Regions from separate parts of the Homo sapiens genome. Here region 1 is linked to region 2. The links come from fine-mapping of genetic effects on gene expression. A gene starts in region 2. The other region holds a variant in brackets. All regions are shown on one strand. Distances are between the middles of the regions. Region 1 overlaps ARPIN-AP3S2 (ARPIN-AP3S2 readthrough). Region 2 holds the start of ANPEP (alanyl aminopeptidase, membrane).

What was found. PIP is the estimated chance that this variant, and not a neighbour inherited with it, causes the effect. A credible set is the group of variants that fine-mapping cannot tell apart.
Region 1: its variant is the best candidate, but not a certain one, in a credible set for the expression of ANPEP in whole blood (TwinsUK, PIP 0.72).

Annotation. Positions count from the first base shown.
Region 1 is chr15:89,841,043-89,849,413 of GRCh38, reverse strand. The region is part of intron 8 of ARPIN-AP3S2 (ARPIN-AP3S2 readthrough); the gene reads left to right. All of the region lies in intron 4 of AP3S2 (adaptor related protein complex 3 subunit sigma 2), which reads left to right. Among named protein-coding and RNA genes, the nearest start is that of MIR5094, 5.5 kb to the left of the region's middle. RefSeq lists an enhancer at 9-1,208. The variant AAGAGAGAG/G (reference allele first, on the strand shown) is at 5,129.
Region 2 is chr15:89,810,115-89,818,485 of GRCh38, reverse strand. ANPEP (alanyl aminopeptidase, membrane) reads left to right here and starts at 3,634. Exons shown (of 21, transcript NM_001150.3): 1 at 3,634-3,714. RefSeq lists cis regulatory regions at 3,251-3,253, 3,271-3,300, 3,299-3,302, 3,210-3,338, 3,590-3,595, promoters at 3,210-3,698, 2,544-3,698 and an enhancer at 3,566-4,065.

The sequences.
Region 1 (8,371 bases), 31 kb before region 2:
GCCTGAGCGACAGAGTGAGACTCCATCTAAAGAAAAAAAAATACAATTCATTACTTAGATATTAACAATGAGCTGCAAAAAAAGCACTCCCCCCAAAAAAAGCCCAATTACATTTAGAATATTCTTTTTTAGAAGTCATGGGAGTGTGTAATACGCTTTTAAAGTTTTCTGTTAAAATGATTTAATGGTGATTTAATGTCTCTTTCATGCATATTGTTTTGTCTCCCTAGCTAGAAGTCAACTTTTCAATGAAGTCAAGTATGCCTGGTACTTGTTAATGTGTTCCATGTTGTTCACTGTAGTTACACCTACATAGACATCCAGCCAACAGTCATTGAGTCTAATTACCATATGTTCATTTTTAGGTAAAAGAGATGCAAGGGAATGAGGATAGTCAGTCCTTTGCTTGTCTTAAAACACCGATAAAACATTGGACTTTGGAATGAAAGTACGAGTAAGAGAGAAAAAGGCATATGTACCAGGTCCTCAATACTACTCATAAAGATATCTTCTTCCTCTTTTCATTTCTTTCTAAAATGTATAATATGGGAACTAGAGTCTGACTCTGGGCCAAGATGACTCTCAGATGATTTTCTCTTCCCGTCAGTGCTGAGTCACCTCAGAGCGTCGTTACCCTTTGGCTCATTAATAGCCACCATGCCCCCAAGTATAGACAAGAAAATGATGCATTTCCCATCTCTCAACAATCTCTTCCCTACTTATTTTCTGAAGCCCTTTCCTAGGAATTAATGAAACCAGCTATGCCACGAAGGAGTAGAAAAAGCTATCAGCCTGGGAGGCCAAGGCAGGCGGATCACAAGGTCAGGAGATCGAGACCATCCTGGCTAACACGGTGAAACCCTGTCTCTACTAAAAATACAAAAAATTAGCCAGGTGTGGTGGCGGGTGCCTGTAGTCCCAGCTACTCCGGAGGTTGAGGCAGGAGAATGGCATGAACCTGGGAGGCGGAGCCTGCAGTGAGCCAAGATCACGCCACTGCACTCCAGCCTGGGCGACAGAGCGAGACTCTGTATCAAATAAAAAGAAAAAGCTATCAGCACTCAGCTTTTTATATAGTAGACTAGAGTCTTGTCAGTGATTAACAATTCTTTTTCAAAACTTGAGTGTTGCAGTATTGGCATCCTCATGTTTTAATACAAGCACTGTGACCATGCTCTTTTATATTTGATTAGTGTTTTTGTCTTCTATGTATAACACAGTTATTTTGAGAAAGACTCCACAGTAGGAATGTGAGCCTCTGTCTTTTGTAGCACAACAGGCATTTGCCCTACAGTGCAAGGGACCTGGAGAGGGATTGATCTAGATTAGAGGTTTCTATGGATTCGATTAAGCTTGGGATGTGGCATGCATTAACATGCTGCTAGTGTCTCAAAAGATTTTACTTATCCTCTCTGCCTGTGAAATTTTCGGTTAGATGGAATCCTGCCATCCCAATACAGAACTGCATTTTATTATAGAAACAGTATTGTTCATATTAGGTGTAGTGGCAGGGGTGCTCTCTGGTACCACATTTTGGGTAGCTTTATGGATTTAAGTCTGCTTTCATGAGCTGCTAGCCTTGAAAATCTTACTTATTACCTTTATAGAAAAATGCATTGTAAATTTAAATACTTAAACATTTGGAACATGACCAATTTAAGGTTTGGAGACTGTGTTTTTACTAGAGTAAAAGGTAATTTAAATACCTTGCTTATGCCTTCTTGTTTATTATCTTCAGGTACCAGATCAGTCTGTTTTTAAGTGATCTCTGTTGACATGGGATTAGATTCAGAACTTTCTTTGATTTCAGTGAGAAACAACCAGGGATGGAACCCTTGAAGAGCATGGAATCCTCTGTCCTTCCGGAGGGTTGTTGCAACTGACTTGTCCCCACCCCTAGTAGTTCTAGAGCTAGGTTCCTGAGGCACATCTGTATCCTTGAAGAAACACTTTTATTTTTCTTCTTAGATTCAATTCTGATATGAAACTAGCAGACTCATTTTAATCTACTTTTTTTTTTTTTTTTTTTTTTTTTTTTGTAACAGGGTCTCGCCCTGTCTCCCAGGCTGGAGTGCAGTGGTGCAATCACTGAAGTCTTGACTTCCAGGCTCAAGTGATCCTCTTACCTCAGCCTACCGAGTAGCTGGAACTACAGGCTTGTGCCACTATGCCCAGCTAGTTTTTAAACTTTTTTTTTTTAGAGAGACAGAGGTCTCACTATGTTGCCCAGGCTGGTCTTGAACTCCTGGGCTCAAGCAATCCTCCTTCCTAGGCCTCCCAAAATGCTGGGAATACAGGCATGAGCTGCTATGCCTGGTCTTAATCTACTTTTGTCTGCAGAGGTTAACTTTGTGTTGCAGACAGTAAGTAGGTCCAGTTATAGAAGCAAGTACCTTCAAGGGATGGAGGATGAGGTGATAGCATCCTAGAAAAGAAAAAATGAGGCCAGGCGAGGTGGCTCACACCTGTAATCCCAGCACTTTGGGAGGCTGAGGTGGGCGGATCACCTGAGATCAGGAGTTTGAGACCAGCCTGGCCAACATGGTGAGACCCCATTTCTACCAAAAAATACAAAAATTAGCCAGGTGTGCTGGGCGCAGTTGCTCATACCTGTAATCCCAGCACTTTGGGAGGCCGAGGCAGGCGGATCACAAGGTCAGGAGATCGAGACCATCCTGGCTAACACAGTGAAACCCTGTCTCTACTAAAAATACAAAAAATTAGCTGGGTGTGGTGGCACACGCCTGTAGTCCCAGCTACTCGGGAGGCTGAGGCAGGAGAATTGCTTGAACCCGGGAGGCGGATGTTGCAGTGAGCCGAGATCGCACCACTGCACTCCAGCCTGGGCCACAGAGCGAGACTCCGTCTCAAAAAAAAAAGAAAAAAAATTAGCCGGGTGTGGTGGCATGTGGCCTGTAGTCCCAGCTACTGGGGAGGTTAAGGCTGTAGGATCGCTTGAATCTGGGAGGTGGAGGTTGCAATGAGCCGAGATCATGCCACTGTATTCCATCCTGGGCGACAGAGTGAGACCATGTCTCAAGAAAAAAAAAAAATAAAGAGACACAGATGTCCAGAGGTGTTGGGGGAGAGTGGAGAGACTCGATAACAGGTTAGATTGTCTTTAGAGGAATTGACATTTTGACTACAGTACTCATTCCTACTCTTGACTATTTTCAGGGGTTCCAAGAGAAAAATTTAAATAGGACAGAGCTAAAAACACCGACTTTCACTCACTAAAATGTTGTCATAAATTTATGTATCTTGATCTTGGAAAACATCAGTATCTATGCCTCATTTTACCTTTTAAGATTTCAGATTTATCACCCGAAGCATTTTCTCTATTGCCTTCCCCTTATATCAAGATATCCTGTTGGTTTATTGGGGTTATCCTAATCTTTATGTCAGATGAAACTCATCCTGGTTGTAATTATTTTTAGGTTGAATTACCATTGGATTTGCCAAGTACTGAAAAATCAGTAGCACTTTTGTTTAAACTCTGTTAATAAACACTTCTGAGTGAATTTTGCTAGTGTCATTATTTCCCATGCTTGCTGAGTAGAAGGTTGAATTATTATTACTTCATAATTCATATTTGTTCAATGCACACTGTGTGAAGCTGAGTTTAGGCCTCTCGAAGACTTAGCCTCTTTCTTTCTGTTCCTGTGGTTTTGAATACCATTTACATGACTCACGTCTCAGATTTTCTTTCCCTACCAGCCTCCCTGTGTTGGTTTGTGACTTTATCTGTCAGTGTTCTCTCAGGTATTTACTTAGATTTCTGCAGGCATCCTCAAGGTCAGCGCATCAGCCAACTTCTGTTGTTTAACAGAACCCTTCTTTGTGCCCTGACTCTATCTCCAGTTCTTTAGGTACATGAGTTCAGTGTTGATTCTTGACTGCTTGCTCCCACACCCATGCTTGGCAGCCTCCAACTTTCTTAAGTCCCATCTATCTCCAATCAGAGAAATGTTAGCCATCTTTCATGGTCAACTTCATATTCAGTGGACAAGGTCTGAACTGACTAGCAGGACTAACACGGGCAGCTGTTCGCTCATCCATTGCTCACTTACACTTGAGTCATTTTGCTTACCAAAGGTCAGTTGTGATGTTTCCAGATCTCTTTATGCCAGTAAACTGGTACTGTAATTATGTAATTTGATTAAATAATATACAGATTAAATTATGAGGGAGAAAAGAAAATTATTCTGGCTGTGCATGGTGGCTCACGCCTGTAATCCTAGGACTTTGGGAGGCCGGGGTAGGCAGATTGCCTGAGCTCAGGAGTTCAAGACCAGCCTGGGCAACATGGTAAAACCTCGTCTCTACTAAAAATACAAAAAATAAGCTGGGCGTGGTGGCGGGCGCCTGTAGTCCCAGCTACTCAGGAGGCTGAGGCAAGAGAATCGCTTGAGCCTGGGAGACAGAGGCTGCAGTGAGCCGAGATCGTGCCACTGCACTCCAGCTGGGCAACAGAGTGAGACTGTTTCCAAAAAAAAAAAGAAAAGAAAATTACTCTGTGAAAAGTAAGAGGAATGCTTTGGAAGGACAAGTACTTTAAAAAGGAAATGAAGCTGAATTAGGTTTGGGCAAGATAACTATGGAAGAGTAGAGGTGGAAGGATCTTAAAAATCTAGGATTCTGTACTTACTGTTTCACAGCAGTTTGAGTTCTAACTTTAAGAAACTGGAAATTGTAGATGATGCATTCTGGGTGAGTTTTTTGCAATAATGGCAAAAAACTCTAATCAGCAGAAGAGATCCTTCTAGGTTGGGCACATTGGCTCACACCTGTAATCCCAATGCTTTGGAAGGCTGAGGCGGGAGGATCCCTTGAGCTCAGGAGTTCAAGACCAGCCTGAGCAATATAGCAAGACCTCATCTCTACTTAGAAATTAAAAAAAAAAAGAAAAAAAGCTGGGCATGGTGGCACATGCCTATAGGCCCAGCTACTCATGAGACTGAGGCAGGAGGATTGCTGGAGCCCAGGAGTTCAAGGCTGCAGTGAGCTATTATCATGGCACTGCACTCCAGCCTGGGTGACAGAGCAAGACCCTGTCTCTAAAAAAAGAAAGAAAGAAAGAAGGAAGGAAGGAAAGAAGGAAGGAAGGAAAGAAAAAAGTAAAGAAAGA[AAGAGAGAG/G]AGAGAGAAAGAAAGAAAGAAAGAAAGAAAGAAAGAAAGAAAGAAAGAAAGAAAGAAAGAAAGAAAGAGAAAGAAAGAAAGAGGGTTTTTTGGCCCTAGCCAAAAGTTCAGTGGCTCTCAAAGTTTTGTTGTTTATAACAATGATGGTAGGCTTGAACATTCACGGGAAAAGTCACAGTAAAAGTCAGATTAACCATATCTTTATTACTTTAGTTTTAAATGCTATCCATGGACTCTCAGTTACTGAGGGTGAGGAAATCAGTGTTCGTATTCTACCTCCCTCCTTTTTCCCCTCTTCTCTTCCTAGTTTTTGCTAGCTGGAGTTTTATACATCATCAAAGCATATAGTATTGACGATCTGTTGTTACCCTAATCCTATTTTAGTCTTAGACCTACAGTTAAGTAGTTTTCAGTGCTCACCGTAAGTTTTTGCCGTAGTTTTTTTGTTTTTGTTTTTGTTTTTGTTTCTGAGACGGAGTTTCACTCTTGTTGCCCAGGCTGGAGTGCAGTGGCACGATCTTGGCTCACTGTAACCTCCTCCTCCTGGGTTCAGGCGATTCTCCTGCCCCAGCCTCCCAAGTAGCTAGAATTACAGGCACATGCCACTTCTGCCCAGCTAACTTTTGTTTGTTTGTTTTTTTCTGAGATAGAGTCTCGCTCCATCACCCAGGCTGGAGTACAATGGTGCGATCTCAGCTCACTGCAGCCTCCACCTCCCGGGTTCAAGCAATTCTGCCTCAGCCTCCTGAGTAGCTGGGATTACAGGTGCATGCCACCACACCTGGCTAATTTTTGTATTTTTAGTAGAGACGGGGTTTCACCATGTTGGCCAGGCTGGTCTTGAACTCCTGACCTCAAATGATCCACCCACCTTGGCCTCCCAAAGTGCTGGGATTACAGGCATGAGCCACCAGGCCTGGCCCTGCCATAGTTTTTCCAGTCACCTGTTAGTTGGCACAAGTGCTTCCTTTTGTAGATTCCTTAAGAAATACTTGGCTGGGTGTAGTGGCTCATGCTTGTAATCCCAGCACTTTGGGAGGCCAAGGCGGACGGATCACCTGAGTTTGGGAGTTTGAGACCAGCCTGACCAACATGGAGAAACCCCATCTCTACGAAAAATACAAAATTAGTCAGGCGTGGTGGCACATGCCTGTAATCCCAGCTACTCAGGAGGCTGAAGCAAGAGAATCGCTTGAACCGGGGAGGCAGAGGTTGTGGTGAGCGGAGATCGCGCCATTGCACTCCAGTCTGGATAACAAGAGTGAAACTCTGTCTCAAAAAAAAAGAAAAAAAGAAATACCTGGGAATAATGGTCCCCATTCTGTTACCCTTGCTGGACAGTTGACTGGGTATAAAGTCCTTGAGTCTTCTGGGCACAGTGGCTTACGCCTGTAATCCCAGCACTTTGGGAGGCCAAGGTGGGCGGATCACAAGGTCAAGAGATGCAGACCATCCTGGCCAACATGGTAAAACCCCGTCTCTACTAAAAATACAAAAATTAGCTGGGCATGGTGGCGCATGCCTATAGTCCCAGCTACTTGGGAGGCTGAGGCAGGAGAATCGCTTGAACCCAGGAGGTGGAGGTTGCACTGAGCCGAGATCGCGCCACTGCACTCCAGCCTGGCAACAGAGCGAGACTCCGTCTCAAAAATAAAAATAAAAATAAATAAAGTCCTTGAGTCACACTTTCTGTCCTTGAGAATTTTGTAGGTGTTGTTCCATTTTCTGTTAGCATTAAATATTAATGTGGAAATTTTCATTATTTTGTTTCTCTTTTAAGTGATTTGATCTTTTTGCCTGGTTGCAGGAACCCAGAAACCTTACCTAAAGGTGTATCTTGGTACTGCCTATTCTGAATTTGTTTCCCCTGGGATACAGTGTGACCTTTCAGTGTGTAGACCCCAATCCTCTTATAGTTCAGAAACACCTTAGATTCTATCTTTATGAACATATCTTTACATATTTTTCCCATTCATGTTAAAGTTTTCTTTTATGCAAATATTACATCTCCTTTGCTGTCTTTTGTAACTGTTTCTTCTCTATTTCTTTTAGCCCTTTTTGGTTTCATTTTTTTTTTCCATTTCTCTCCTTTTGTTCCTAGTGTGTTTTTAGCAGTTTCTTCTCCCTTTGCTTCTTCCAGTTTCACCTTCATTTCTGTAACAGTATTTTTCCTTTCACTTCTTTCCTCAGTTCTGCCAGTATGCAGCTTGTCTTCTCTTCTCGTCTCCCTACCTCTGCTAAAGTTCTTGTATTTCTGCTTTGAGCTCTCATTTCATAGAGACAACTATTTTATCAAGTTTTCTTTTTTTCTTTGTGTAAAATATTTTATTACCATTGTATCTAGTCCATGGAGGCCCTTTTCCAGTCTGTGGTCTTAGTCTGCCATTTGGTTTTCCTATTTCTTTCCTAATTTTTTCTCGTTGTATATTTATATAGATCCTGTTTAGATTTTTTGTATACTTATCTTTAAATAGGCAAGTTTTTCAGGGACCAGCTGTTTTGCAGGATGTTTGTTGGAGGAGCTACCAAAACTCTGTTCTGGGCTAGCTACAGTTGTTCCCTTGATTTAGGGTTCTGGGTGAGTCCGTTTACCCTTAGTCTCTAGCCAGCCAATCGAGATAGGCAAGGCGTCTCTTAGCATCTCCACAATGCAAAGGATGTCTTCTCTACTACCACAGACACCACCTCTGTGAGGCAAATGTAGCTTGCGTGATTTCTCATTTAGCCTCAACTTCAGGTCCAAGGAAGTTCCTGCCTTCCAAAAACAAGGAATTAATTTGGTGCTGGAGTGTGTCCTTTACCCACAGGAAGTACATATTTTTGCAGATCTTTCTGAGATCACCAGCTTCCCTGTCCTCTCCCTGTAGCATCCTTTCTTCTTTTTCTTCTGTGAAGCAAAGGAGTCCCTGCCTGAGCTCCCTGCTTTTGACAGCTTTTTCACCTGTTTGGGGGTTTGGAATTTTGGATATCCTGTAGTTATAACAAAAATGGAGTTTGCATTTTTATTTCTTCTTTTTGCATTTGGAACATATTTTGAACAGCATTTGAAAATGCTGACTTTATGATGCAGTGTTAAATAAGAAGTTTTAACTGACTTTTTCTGTTAACCAGCCACTAGTCTCCACGACATCATGTGTTAGGCCTTTTACTATACCTTCTCCAGAAAGCCCCCACCACCACACTGTTGTCTATCTTCGAAGTCCCTAAAGCCCAAGGAATATGCTACTTAGATATA
Region 2 (8,371 bases):
TCGTGTTATCAGCGCGTGCACATATAAAAGCAAATTGTGTGTCTCTGTGCTTTTTCCATTTAAGTACAATTGATAAACGACTTGAACACGGCTCTGCGTCTAGGTTTTATTACTAAACAACCTGTCCTGGGGAGCGTTCTGTAAGGAGAATCCTAGTTATTTTTGATAGCCATATGCATTCCATTGCAGGGCATACAATAATCATTCATTTATCCCATCTCTATTGGTGGACATTTAGGTTGTCTCCAGCTATTAGATTGGTGCAAAAGTCATTGTGGTTTTGGCTCAATGTTGCAGCGATGCAGTGGAAAGCCTTGTGTATTCCTTTCACTTACGTGTGAGCATTATCTGTAGGATAAATTTCTGGAAGTGCCAAGTCAAACAGGACATGTGTTTATATGTTTGATAAATACTGCCCAAATATTCTCTTTTGAGGTCGAGTCAGTCTACACACCAACCAGCAATGCAGGGGGTTGCCTGTTTTCCTCCCACCCTTGCGAATAGTGTGTTACCAAACTTTTTTTTTTTTTTTTGAGACAGGGACTCACTCTATCGCTCTGGCTGGAGTGCAGTGACACGATCATGGCTCACTGCAGCCTTGACTTTTCAGGCTCAAGCAATCCTCCCACCTCATTCTTCCAAGTAGCTGGGACTACAGGCACGTGCCACCACGCCTGGCTAATTTTTTTTTTTTGGTAGAGACAGGGTTTTGCCACGTGGCCCAGGCTGGTCTCGAACACCTGGTTTTAAGTGATTCTCCTGCCTCAGCCTCCCAAAGTGCTGGAATTACAGACATGAGCCACTGTGCCTGACCTACCAAACTGCTTTTTATCTTTGCTGATCTGGTAAGTGAAGAATAGTATCTTTTGTAGTTATAATTTTCATTTTCTTAATAAGTGAGTTATTGAACATCTTTTTACATGTTTATGAGCCCATGAATTTTCTTTCTGCAGGAGCAAGCACTGTCTCTTCATCTTTTTTTTCACAGGGGGTGGACAGAGTCTCTCTCTGTTACCCAGGCTGGAGTGTAGTGGCGCAATCTCGGCTCACTGCAACCTCCACCTCCCGGGTTCAAGCGATTCTCCTGCCTCAACCTCCCCAGTAGCTGGGATTACAGGCACCCACCACCATGCCCACCCAATTTTTGTATTTTTAGTAGAGACAGGGTTTCACTGCATTGGCCAGGCTGGTCTCGAACTCCTGACCTCGTAATCTGCCTGCCTTGGCCTCCCAAAGTGCTGGGATTACAAGCATGAGCCACCACGCCCAGCCCACTTAGGCTATTTCTGATTTTCCAGTATTATAAGTAATACTGCAGTGAAAAGCCTTGCATATAAATATTCTATTTCCTTAGGCTAAATTTATTTATTTTTTTGAGACAGTCTTGCTCTGTAGTCGAGGCTGGAGTGCAGTCATGTGATCTCAGCTCACTGAAGCCTCTGCCTCCCAGGTTCAAGCGATTCTCGTGCCTCAGCCTCCCAAGTAGGTGGGACCACAGGCATGCGCCACCACACCTGGCTGATTTTTGTGTTTTAGTACAGACACAGTTTCACCAGGTTGCCCAGGCTGGCCTTGAATTCCCGACCTCAAGTGATCCACCTGCCTTACAGGCATGAGCCACCACGCCCAGCCTCTTCAGGCTAAATTTCTGAAAGTGATCTTCATTCCTAACCCCAAACTGCCCTCCAGAAAGCTGGGTTGCACTTCTGCCACAGCAGGATCTTTACTCCTCTTAAAATCTCCGCGGAGCCTGGGTGGGAGAGGCAGAGCTCCGGGGGGAAGATTCTCTCCTGGCCTGATGTAGTGTTTTCCTTGGCTTGTCAGACATGGAGGAGATTATGCCAGATATGATAGTGGAGAGAGTCAGACATGCATGAGACTGGAGAGAGAAAAAAAACAAAATAGCCTCTGAGGTCTCACTCACAGCCTACTTACTCTTACTTTACACACAATTCTATATTCCGATATGTTTGTGACCTGGTTTTTAAGAGTACAGAGCAAATTAGGAAGGAGAAGCAAGGCTGCTACCTAGAGGTACCCTGGTCCTCCATGAAGTTTCCAAAAGAAGAGCAAGTGCAAGTAAAATAATAAAACACAGCCAGTCACAAAGCCATCAATTTGGACCATGCAGTGCAAGGCTTTAACTGTCCCAAGGATTCCAATCATGGATAAGGAAGAGCTTAAATTTGATTATAAATCTGAAAGTCTGGAAGTCAGCTTGAATATTGTGGTAGACATAATCATATCCTCCTCCTCAAAAGATGCCCTGGTTCTAATGCCCAGAATCTGTGAATATGTTATGCTACCCCACGAAGGGAAATTACAGTTGCAGGTGGAATTCAAGTTGCCAATCCATTGATTTAAAATAGAAAGATTACCCTGGATTATCTGGGTAGGCCCGATGTAATCACAAAGATGCTCACCAGTGGAAGCAAGAGGCAGAACAGTTGGTGTCAGAGTGACAGATTGTGAGAGACTGGTGGGCCACTGCTGGCTTTGAAGATGGATGGGGCCACCAGCCAAGGAATGTGGGCAGCTTCTAGAAGCCAGAAAAGCCAAAGAAACAGGTTCCCTTCCAGCCTCAAGAAAGCTGTATCCCTCAACCCCCTTGCTTTTAGTCCAGCGAGACCCATTTTGGACTTCTGATTTTACAAAACTTGTAAGATAGTAAATTAGTGTTGTTTTATGTTTGTGTTACGGCAGCCACAGGGAACCAATACAAATATTATCTGGTACCGCCCATTAAAGCTGCTCAGAGACAGGGAGCCCCACCCTGGCGGGGCTCCGGTGGCTGCACAACCTCTGCAAGCAGGATCAAGATGAGAGGCGCAGGCCAGGTGTGGTGGCTCACTCCTGTAATCTCAGCACTTTGGGAGGCCAAGGCGGGCGGATCACTTGAGGTCAGGAGTTCGAGACGAGCCTTACATGGTGAAACCCTGTCTCTACTAAAACTCCAAAAATTAACCAGGCGTGGTGGCGTGCACCTGTAGTCCCAGCTACTCGGGAGGCTGAGGCAGGAGAATCGCTTGAACCCAGGAGGAGGAAGTTGCAGTGAGCGGAGAAAGTGCCACTGCACTCCAGCGTGAGCGACAGAGCGAGACTCTGTCTCAAAAACAAATAAAGGAAAAAGAAAAAAATGAGAAGCGCGTGTTCCCGACTCCGGTGCTTTTTCGCAAGGTCGTGCTACTGCGCCTTCTGAACTACGAGTCCCAGGTACCAAGAAAGTTGAATTGCGTGCTGTGGCGGGTCCGTTATCTGCACCACCCGTCTGCACGGGATGCGCTGGCTTCCTGCCCCGGATGCACAAGGCTCCCTGCGGGACACTCAGGGCGAGGCTCTGAGCCCCTCCCCCGCGGCAGATGCCGTCCAGATGTGGCCGGCGGGTCCCGCGGGCTGCGGCGACAGGGACCCCGTCGGGGGCAGCAGGAGCCCTGGTGCATCCCAGGCCCCGGGGGGAAGGCCGGGCCGTCGGAGGAGCGGAGGAGCCCTGGGGGGCTCCCGGGAAGCCGCGGGCGGACGGGGGAGGAGCCCGGGCGGAGCTGCGGGCGGGCGGCCCGCTAGGGGTGAATCGGGTGGAGTAGTGGTCGGGTCCGGTTACTTCCCTTTAAAAAGACGGGAAAGGAGGAGTCCAGTGCTGGAGGGGCAGGGACGGCGGCGGCGCAGCTCGGAACCCGCCAGGGTCCAGGGTCCAGGTTCCAGCGCCCGGCGGCCCAGGCAAGTGGGGCGGGAGGGCGGGGGCTGCGGGCGCGGGTAGGGGTCGTGGGGCAGTTGGGTGCGCGGGAACCGAGGGAGCTGCAGACCCAGCGCTTGGCGCGTGCGGAGCTGGACTTCTGCGGCCGCGACGCCCCTCTTCCCAGATGGGTAAACTGAGGGCCAGGGAAAGCGAAGAATTCTTTTGGCCGAGCTCCCACTACGATCTCGCGGTCAAGTGGGTCCCCAGCGGGCCTCGCAGGGGTCGGAGGGGCTCCCATCTGGGGAGGGGGCCCCAGGGTGGGCGAGGGCGACGGGAGCCTGGGGAGGACGGACGGGGAGGGCGGCGGAGCGGAGCTAAGCTGCGGCGGGTGGACCCGGCTCGGCCGCGGCCACTCTGTCCCTGGTGGGTGGGGCGCGGCCGAAGGCAAAGGGCGAACCCGGCCCGCCTGTGGGGTCTCTGGCCAACACTGGGCTCAGAGGCCCTTTCTTTAACCTTAGATCTCGCTCCTCGGTCTAAAGCCTCCGCCGCAGCTCTCAGTGAAGAGGAAGGGGAACTCTAGGTGCTCAACGCCCGCGTTACAGTCGCGTTCTCCCTCGCTCCTACAACCCGGCCAAGATGCCGGGGCATGGATGGGGACCGAGGTTTGGGGGTTGTGGAGCCTATTCCACGCCCTCCCTGGTGAGCAACTGAGACAGATCCAGGGCCCCATTGCAATCCACTCTTGGTCTGGGAAAAGGTCCCCTAAACAGGGCCAATGGGATCCTTTCCCCAAATGACTCCAGAACGCACCCCCCCCCCCCAGCAGTGCGGTGGGCAGGGACGGCCCAGGTGGGCTATGTCCTGGGGTTTTGTGACTGGATCCCCACTCCTCCCCCACCTCAGCCCCTGGACTGCAACCCACCAGGCCGTGTTCGGGGGTGGTCAGAGCCCTGGTCTCAGCCAGACCTGAGGTCTGATGTGGCTTCATCCCTGAGTCTCTAAACGCCCTGGCCTTACTGGGCCTCAGTTAATTCACCTGTGAAAGGGGAGGCTTGGACCAGAGGGCCCCTCAGGGTATGTGTTTTGTGGAGGGGAGGTGGGCGTGTGGGGTAGGGGTGACCAGGAGGAAGTGGGGACAGCCTCTGTCCCACAGGAAGGCTGGCTAGCCCCAGTGGGTATGGGGGAGCTGGGCAGGGAAGAGGGTGGACTCCCCTCTCCCTGTGGGAGGGTGTGCTGGGCCCATGAGGCCCTCATCCACTCTCAGCCACCTTCCTGTGGAGCCCTAGCCTCGAAGGCCACACTATGAGTGCAAGGAGGCCACCCACAGCGCTGCTCCCGCTTCACAGGTGGGGAAACCGGCCCAGTGTCTTGAGGCAGCCCAGCCGCCTGCCCTGTGCTTCCCCCAGAGCCTTCTGGGGAATGAGACCTTCGTTACACGCTGGCGCTCCTTACACCCCTACAGCCTTTAAGCTAAGGCCTCCAGCCCCATCGCTGTAAGAATTGTATGCTAGGCATTCTGAGGACATAGATGGGGGTCCCCATGTCGGAAGGAGCCAAGGTGTTGGAACTGGGTCCAGTTCCTGGGCTGGCTCTGGTGGGAGATCTGGAACCCTATGCTGGGGCTCCTGGACAGCCCTGGAGGCATGGCATGGACAGTGTGTCAGCCGCACACCGAGGCCCTGGGGTGTCCTTATTCACATAGGCTGGCAGCCATCTATCCCTAGCCCGGGCTTCACCCCGGGTGCCTGTCACTCCTGGCCCTACAGTGGTCCCAGTCACACCTTGGAGGCAAGATGTGGGTCCTCCACAGGCCTGTGTCTGGAAGCAGCCCCCAGCACTCCCTGGCTAACAAGTTCTACTTCTGAGAACTACCCCCAGCTCCCAGCCCTGGTCTGGCCAAATGGGTGCGTGTCTTCTCCTGTGGTCTTCAACTCCCCTTGGCACGGCCACAGTAGATGTGAGGGGCTGTATGGGAGGACATTTTTAGGAGGCATATGTAGTTAAGCTGTGGAACCTGCTGCTAACTAGCTGTGTGGCCTTGGGCAAATCACTTAACCTTTCTGTGCCTCAGTGTCCTCATTTGCCAAATGGGGGTGATTATCCTGGTAGGGCACATAGTAGGTGCTCAGTTTCACCTACCATGTGTCTCACCAGGATAATCACCCCCCATTTGGCAGACAGGAGTTGCCAGGCAGGATCTGTGGCCCCACACAAACCCTATGTGTACTTCCCCCACCCACAAATGCCTCTGCTCCTTCCTCCTGTGTGCCCTGCATTGGGCTGAAGAGGCTGATGAGAGGCAACTTCCCATTGGGGCCTTCTGAGGTTCTTGCAGGAGGGGCAATGTCCAAGGCTCCCAGAGGAAGCACCCTGGGGTGATGCAGCTATGGGCGGAGGCCTCAGAAGCCTGGGAGAAAGCCAGGGGCCTGCGGGGACAGAGTGTGCCCTGGCCCAGGCCCAGCCTCGTCCCTACCCTTCTCGCTCACTGCTCCCTCAGAGCAGACAATGAGCCCCAGGTTGTCCCTGAGCTCCCAGTCTCATAGTTCACAGTCAGGGACACTGAGTGGGAGTGGGTGGGGCCTACCCAAGGACCCAGTGGTCGGGGATGGAGCATGGATAACACAGCAGCTCACCCGGCCACGGGTGCTCAGCTCTCCCGGCCACAGCCCCTCCCAGGCTCCTGGAGTCTTCATATTAGAGTAGAAAGCCTCTTGCACTTCACATCTGAGACCAAGGAGCCTCTCCCCACCCACAAGTGTGGGTGTCTTCCACACTGTGACTGTGACTTAGTTATGCCCTGGCATGATCGTTGTCAACCTTCATGTTTTTTGGTTTTGGCTTTGGTTTTAGTTTAGAAGAACTTACGTTTTCTGGACTAAAACATAGGCAGGGAAGAAATACATAAACCCATAGAAAGGCTGCTTTAGTTGAAGTGGGTTGAGAGCTCGGCTTCTACCCCGTCAAGAAATTCACAGCGAAAGGAACACATGCATTTTGCTCACTGGCAGAAAGAGCCTGCACCAAAGACAACCCGCAGGGCCAGCAACCCCAACATCATACAGGGTGGAGCAGCAGTTCCCAAAGCGGGTGCAACTGGACAGGATCCTTTTAGGAGCTACCTAGAGGAACAATTTTTTCTTTTTTTCTTTTTTTTTTTTTTTTTACTTGAGATGGAGTCTCACTCTGTCGCCCAGGCTGGAGTGCAGTGGCACGATTTCGGCCCACTGCAACCTCCGCCTCCCGGGTTCATGCCATTCTCCTGCCTCAGCCTCCCGAGTAGTTGGGATTACAGGCGCCCACCACCACGCCCGGCTAATTTTTTGTATTTTTAGTAGAGATGAGGTTTCACCGTGTTAGCCAGGATGGTCTCGATCTGCTGACCTCGTGATCCGTCCGCCTCAGCCTCCCGAAGTGCAGGGATTACAAGCATGAGCCAACACGCCCGGCCCAGGAACAATTTTTAAACCAATAGTCATGAATTGTTAATATAAATTAACACATCCAACCATGATTTTATCGCTCAGAAGGAGGCTAAGAAAGTGAATTGATTTAAAGAAAAATACGAAGTAAATAATCACAAAGGTGGATCACGAAGGTGGTTTGTGCACAGCCCAGAAGCCCAGGAAGGAATGTCGGGTAGAGAGGGTGGAACCTGTCCCGAGGATCAAGGCTCTGAAGTTCCATCCTTAACTGCTGTCTCTCATTCTTGCACTGATGCCCCATTCCACAAGCACGTGTTGCCCTCCCACTGCACGCCAGGTGTAGAGGATACGGCACACCTGGTGCTACCCTCATGGAGGCACTTGGAGGGCTGCCTGGGGGCAGCACCACTGACTTGTGTCTCCAGGGCAAGTGGGGAGTGGATGAAGCAAAGGCAGGAAGCTTTCCAGGCCCAAGGATCAGCTTGTGTGTAGGGAGGAAGGGAGAATGAAGCGGGGAAAAGCAGGTTGGATTTGAACTGAAAGAGGCCACTGGGGTGGAGCACAGAAGTGACAGGGGAGAGCGTTTGAGATGAGGCCAGAGAATCACTGGGGGCTGGATCACACAGGCCCTGTAGGTCACGGCAAGGACTGTGGGTGTTGTCATTCATTTGGCCAACATGTATTGGGCTCCTGCCTTGTGCTGGGCATGGAGGGGCATACGATGCCACCAGGCCTTCCTTTGAGGTGCTTGGGTGCAGCAGCAGGCTTTTGAACACACTGGTAGCATTTTTCTTTTTCTTTTTTTTTTTTCTTTTTTGAAACAGAGTCTCGTTCTGTTGTCGTCCAGACTGGAGTGTAGTGGCACGATCTCCGCCCACTGCAACCTCCACCTCTTGGGTTCGAGCGATTCTTCCGCCTCAGCCCCCCAAGTAGCTGGGACTACAGGCGTGCGCCACCACGTCCAGCTAATTTTGTATTTTTATTTATTTATTTATTTATTTATTTATTTTTTGAGACAGAGTCTTACACCGTCCCCCAGGCTGGAGTACAGTGGCACAATCTCGGCTCACTGCAACCTCTGCCTCCCGAGTTCAAGCGATTCTCCTGCCTCAGCCTCCTGAGTAGCTGGGATTACGGGCACCTGCTACCATGCCCAGCTAATTTTTTGTATTTTTATTAGAGACGAGGTTTCACCATGTTGGCCAGGCTGGTCTCCAACTCCTGACCTCGTGATCTGCCCACCTCAGCCTCCTAAAGTGCTGGGATTACAGGCATG